Regions from separate parts of the Homo sapiens genome. Here region 2 is linked to region 1. Evidence: fine-mapped expression QTL. A gene starts in region 1. The other region holds a variant in brackets. All regions are shown on one strand. Distances are between the middles of the regions. Region 1 holds the start of NDOR1 (NADPH dependent diflavin oxidoreductase 1). Region 2 overlaps SLC34A3 (solute carrier family 34 member 3).

Region 1 (2,895 bases):
AACAGATAACCAGACAGGACTCTAATCGTGCTCTTATTCAACATTCTTCTGTCTCTGCCTAGACTGGAATAAAAAGCCAATCTCTCTCGTGGCACAGGGAAGGAGATACAAGCTCGTTTACATGTGATAGATCTAACAAAGGCATCTACCGAAGTCTGGTCTGGATAGACGGCACAGGGAGCTCTTAGGTCAGCGCTGCTGGTTGGAGGACATTCCTGAGTCCAGCTTTGCAGCCTTTGTGCAACAGTACTTTCCCAGGATCCACAGGAAATACTCAGAGTCCACCTGGACATTTTACTTATATTCAGTTTCCAAGTGTCAGAGGGGTTCAGGACTGTCTGGCCTGGGGGGCCTCCTCATGACCTCAATTCAGGATTATCTACTCAAAGCATTAAACAAAAGGAAATACATTTTCAGGATGAAGGCTGCTCTTTTAAGCCCTGCTGAAGAAACCATTTCAAACAGGATTGGAATAGGGAAACCCGGCACTCAGCTCGGCGCAAGCCGGCGGTGCCTTCAGACTAGAGAGCCTCTCCTCCGGTGCGCTGCAAGTAGGGCCTCGGCTCGAGGTCAACATTCTAGTTGTCCAGCGCTCCCTCTCCGGCACCTCGGTGAGGCTAGTTGACCCGACAGGCGCGGATCATGAGCAGCTGCAGGAGAATGAAGAGCGGGGACGTAATGAGGCCGAACCAGAGCTCCCGAGTCTGCTCCGCCAGCTTCTGGCACAACAGCATCTCGAAGACGAACTTGAGACTCAGGACCGTAAGTACCCAGAAAAGGCGGAGCACCGCCAGCCGCTTCTCTCCATCCTGGAAGAGGCGCACGGACACGATGGTGGTGAAGTAGGTGCTGAGCCCGTCAGCGGCGAAGAAAGGCACGAACACGTTCCACCAGGAGAGGCCCGGGACCAGGCCATCCACACGCAGTGCCAGCAGCACAGAGAACACCAACAGGGCCAGCAGGTGCACGAAGATCTCGAAGGTGGCGAAGCCTAGCCACTGCACCAGCTCCCGGAGCGAGAAGAGCATCGCGCCCGTTGAGCGCGGGCCGGGGCCCGGCCGAGCGTGCCACCCGCGGGGCTGCGTCTCCTCTCCCCGTGGCCCTCGCCCGCGCCTGCCGCCGCTGCTGCGAGCGAGAGGCAGCGAGCGGCCCCGCCAGCCCCAGCCCTCGGCCCTGATGCGCCGGCAATCCCCCGGCCCCGACCCGGGACTCAACCCTGGCCGCCCGTGAACGCCCGCCTCGATCGGACGCCATGCCCCCACAGGGCGCGTCCCTAGTGCGTCACTTCCGGTCGACGGCGGAAGGCGGAAGGCGGAGCGGTCCCTGCAACCCGGCCGGCGGGAACTGCCTTCTAGTTTTTAGTCTCAGACCAGACCACCGGGCGCACCCCGATGCCGAGCCCGCAGCTTCTGGTGCTCTTCGGCAGCCAGACAGGCACGGCTCAGGATGTGTCGGAGAGACTGGGTCGCGAGGCCCGGCGCCGGCGGCTTGGCTGCCGGGTGCAGGCCCTGGACTCCTACCCGGTGGTGAGGGCTCGCTAGGGCCTCGGCGTGGGGGACGAGCAGGCCTGGCGTGCCCGCCTCGCGGGGTCATCGACCCAAAAGGCGTCGCATTTTCTCTGAGAGCGGGTCTTTCCCTTATGGCGGATTTAGGGAAGGAGGTTTGGGAAGGGGAGTTCAGTTTAGCACCTGGAGGAGGTTGGAACCTGAAAGAGAAGACGGTCTGGCTGCTCACATAAATCCCTCTGCCCTGTCAGCCTGAGTAAAGGAGAAGGGGGTCAAGTTTTGGGAAGGACGCCCGGTCCTTACAGCCGGAGGTCTTACGTGTGTGTGTCTTTTTGTTGAGGTGAATCTGATTAACGAGCCCCTGGTGATATTTGTTTGTGCAACTACAGGCCAAGGAGACCCCCCTGACAACATGAAGGTAAGGCTGGCCTGATGTGGCTCCTCAGATCCCTGCCCTCGACCCTCACCCCGTTTTCATTGCCTGGCGTCTAGGTGCAGTAAATAGCTCTCCTTTATCTCATGCACCTTCAGAGGTGGATTTGAGAGAACGTCCGTGAGTGGGGCTGGGGGCTCCGGTTGCCCTCTCTAATAAACTCGTCGTAGCCACCAAATAGCCTTATTATCCGTTTTAACCTTTCTTATTTTTCCAGGGCTATCTATATGTGCATCTAGTCTGGGTCTTGTGTGTATTTCTAGACTGTATGACCCTCAGGGAACGTTGCTGAATTCTCTGACCATCTTTTAAGCACATATTCTATTCTTGGCACAGTCTGGTGCTGGGGATCCAGCTGTGAACCCAGCAGCCATATTTCCATCCTGGCAGAGTTCACACTGTAGCAGAAGCAGCTAACGGGCAATGACAGTGCCAGCAAACACCTGCTGCTGGGGAAAGTAGCATATGTCACAGGAGCACTGATAAGGGGCATCGAGCCTTATCTCACCCAACCTTGGGGCCCAGGCAGAGGTTTCTGGAAGAAAAGAGTGTAAGCTGAGTCACGGAAGGATGCGTGAGGGCTAGTCAGGCACCGAGGAAGAAGGAGCAGTCAGCGCAGAGGAAAAAGATGATTTGGTTTGTGTGAAAAGTGGAAAGCAGCTCAGGGTGGCCAAGCTGAGGAGTACACTGGGGCAAGAGGGGAGGAGAAGAGAGGCAGGAAGCCAGGCCCAGTCCAAAGAGCCTGAGTAACCACAGCAAGGCAGATGGGCTTGAAATGAAGGGTTGTCGGAACTGTAGGGGTGACACAGTCATGTTCCTAAGCTAGCAAAACCGCACTGGTCTGCAGGACAGCAGGAATAATGCCATGAGATGCACAGGACAGGCAGCAGATGCTACCGATCTGAGCTGAAGTGGTGGCAGAAGATAGAAGTGGACACATTGCAGTGGTGTCAGGAA
Region 2 (2,895 bases), 32 kb after region 1:
GTCCTGCAGCGGCGCCGGCCGGCCTGGCTGCCTGTCCGCCTGCGCTCCTGGGCCTGGCTCCCCGTCTGGCTCCATTCTCTGGAGCCCTGGGACCGCCTGGTGACCCGCTGCTGCCCCTGCAACGTCTGCAGCCCCCCGAAGGCCACCACCAAAGAGGCCTACTGCTACGAGAACCCTGAGATCTTGGCCTCCCAGCAGTTGTGACGGGCAGTTGCTGAGCAGACCGCCCCACCCTCCCCGGCTGGGAGGGCTCTGGAGGGCCCTGGAGGGGGGGTCCCCGCGGCAGCTGACCTCCGGTCACCTGCTTCCCCTTCTGTGCAAATAAACCAGGCTGTTATCTGGGGTGGCGGTCCTCACTCCCCTAGACAGGGGCCGCCTGCGCAGGTGGGGGAAGCAGCCCGATGCTGCCTCCTGGTGGACACTCCGGGGCCTGGGGCTCAGGCACAGGAGCCCGCCCACCCCAAGGTGTGTTTCTCACGGCAGCCGCTGGGGACAGAAGCTCCCAAGGAATGGCGGGCCTGGGGGGGCGGGGACTTCCCACAGTGGGAGCTGGGGCCCCTCCTGGGGGCGCAGGGGAGAGCCCAGCCAGCAGGGAGCAGGGCCGGTGGTGCAGGGTGTGGGGGATCCCGGAGCTCCTCTGCCCCGGCGGATGTCATGGTTGGGGTGGGGACTGGAGTCCCATCAGGTGCGTGGGGTGTGAGAAGGGACCCTGACGGCTTGGAGGGCCAGGTGGTCCCAGAGGCACCACCTGTCTGTCTGCCCTCTGTGTCTCTCAGCCGGTCCTGGGCTGGGCCCCTCGGGGACACTTCTCTGCAGGGCTGGGCCACGGCAGGTGCTCAGCTCCCAGAACCCACCAGGAAGCCAGTCTCACCCGCCAGGCTGGGGCACACTGAGGCCTCCCACTGCCACGGAGAATGAGACCCTGTCCCGGGAAGGCCTGTCCGTGGGGTGGGCCCAGGAGGGCGGACAGCACCCATGGGGAGGACTTGGGGGCCAGGGGGCCCTCCCTCTGCTGTGTGGTCGGGTTTCCACACAGGAAGGCTTGTCTGCCAGCCAATGGGTAACTGGACACCTAGGAAGTTGAGGGGGGGCTCCTGCCACCTCTAGCCCAGAGCTGCCCACAGCCCTAACCCAACCCCCACTCCCGCCAAGGGAAGAAAGCCTTGGGTTACCCCAGAACTGGAGCATTCATTCAGGCACACAGAGACGGGTGGGTGAGGGGACGGTCCCATCAGGGACAGGTCTAGTTTGCTCATTTGAGTCTGCTGCTGTGGCCAGTCACGTTCTCCCTTCCAGAACTGCAGCCCTGTTGGGGGGCAGCTCTCTTCCCAGAGCCTCCCAGGATTGCCTGGTCAGACCCCACTAGGGGATAGAGGTGCAGCCACTCAGGAAGATGAGGCCTGAGGGGGCCCCA[C/T]GGCCACTTCTCCTCTGTGGCTCTGTTCTTTTCTGCCCTCAGTTTCCCTTTGCCCCTGCTCATGACCCCCAGACCCTCTGTGCCCTTGGCCCCCAGTCTTCCCTGGGTCCTCTGCCCCAGCCACCCCTCAAACTCTTAGGCCTCCTGGGCCTTGGTTTCACCTACCGAGGGAGGTGACCACCTGCTCTGGGAGCCAGGGGTGCCTCAGGGGTGGGCTCCAGTGAGAATGGGACCCCCAGCAGCTAGAGCTTTGGTTCTCACAGCCCTGTGATTCTAGGACGCCCCTGTGGACCTGACATCAGCCTCATAGAACCGTCTGGCACCCCTGTAGGGGACAAGCCTGGCTAGCTCCCTGGGGAGCCTGAGGGGCCGGGGAGCTCCCCTGTCCTTTGGGGGGGGATCAGTGAGGCCCTTGTGGAGAGAGGGAGGAAGCACCCCATGCACCTGTCCTTCCAGGGCAGGTGAGGCCTCCCACAAAGGCTGGGCGTCTGGTCCTTTAAGGCAGCCAATACTGTCTGCCTGCTGTCCCTGCCTGGCGGTAACACACCCTCCCACTGGGACCATGGCCACCAGTAAACAGAGCCTTCGTTGTGGATCCTCCGACAGCTGCAGGAGGAGGAGGGCAGGTGCCCAGCACTCCCACAGCCACGCCTGCCCCGCTTCCCTGCCCTTCTGGCCCTCCTTGGACCACATCCTGCCTGGCCACAGACCCCAGGCCCAGGAGTTGGTCCTCCTGCCCCACACTATCCCGCCTCTCCATCCTGCAGCAGGGCACCTTGGCTCAGGGTGGGACCTACAGAGCCTTCCCCAACCAGTTTTGTGCAACAGGGGTGGCTGCTGTCCTTGTTGGGCTCAGGCCCAGGCTTCAGGGTGTCTACTGCTGTCTTGTCCCCAGCCAGTGTCCACCTCACCAGGGCAATGCAAGGGCAAAGTAGGCAAGCTGGTGCCATGGCGAGCTCTGGGGCTCTCACCTGGGCAGGTGACACCTGTGAAACGGGTGGCACACTGACCTCCCAGCCCTGTGGGCACTGGTCACAGGAAGCAGGGGCCTTTACTGGAGAGGGGTTGGGAGACTCTGACAAGGTGCAGGAATGCCACACACCTCAAAGAGCAGCCTCAGTTGGGCTCTGCACAGTTCACTGAGGAAAAAAACAGAGCTTCTCCTTCTCCCCTTTGTGACAACTCAATGTTATGAGACTCCAACATGTCCCTGACTACTGCCTGGACAGCTGAGCTACTCTGCAGGACCCCAGGATGCCCTGGGCACTAGGAGAAACCTGGGATGGCTGGCAGCAACCTGTGCACCCCTCAGGCCGCTGCAGGACCCCAGTCCCTCTGAGGGTCAAGGCCTGTGTCACAGTGGTCACTGGAAGCCAGGCCCGCCTTCCTGGGCTGATCTGTGGGGGAGGCCACCCTCCTGGACAGGATGGCAAACTGGCAACAGACCCCCGAGGAGTGAGCACAGCTGCAGGCCCTCGCCC

The links.
Region 2: its variant is fine-mapped to the expression of NDOR1 in whole blood (TOPMed, PIP above 0.99).

Annotation. Positions count from the first base shown.
Region 1 is chr9:137,204,387-137,207,281 of GRCh38, forward strand. It overlaps NDOR1 (NADPH dependent diflavin oxidoreductase 1), which reads left to right and starts at 1,314. Exons shown (of 14, transcript NM_014434.4): 1 at 1,314-1,526; 2 at 1,846-1,923. The coding sequence starts at 1,392. TMEM203 (transmembrane protein 203) reads right to left here and starts at 1,262. Exons shown (of 1, transcript NM_053045.2): 1 at 1-1,262. The coding sequence starts at 1,028. The coding sequence ends at 618. RefSeq lists a silencer at 1,018-1,277.
Region 2 is chr9:137,236,213-137,239,107 of GRCh38, forward strand. It overlaps SLC34A3 (solute carrier family 34 member 3), which reads left to right. Exons shown (of 13, transcript NM_001177316.2): 13 at 1-343. The coding sequence ends at 204. Among named protein-coding and RNA genes, the nearest start is that of TUBB4B, 3.6 kb to the right of the region's middle. RefSeq lists silencers at 151-480, 501-730. The variant C/T (reference allele first, on the strand shown) is at 1,415.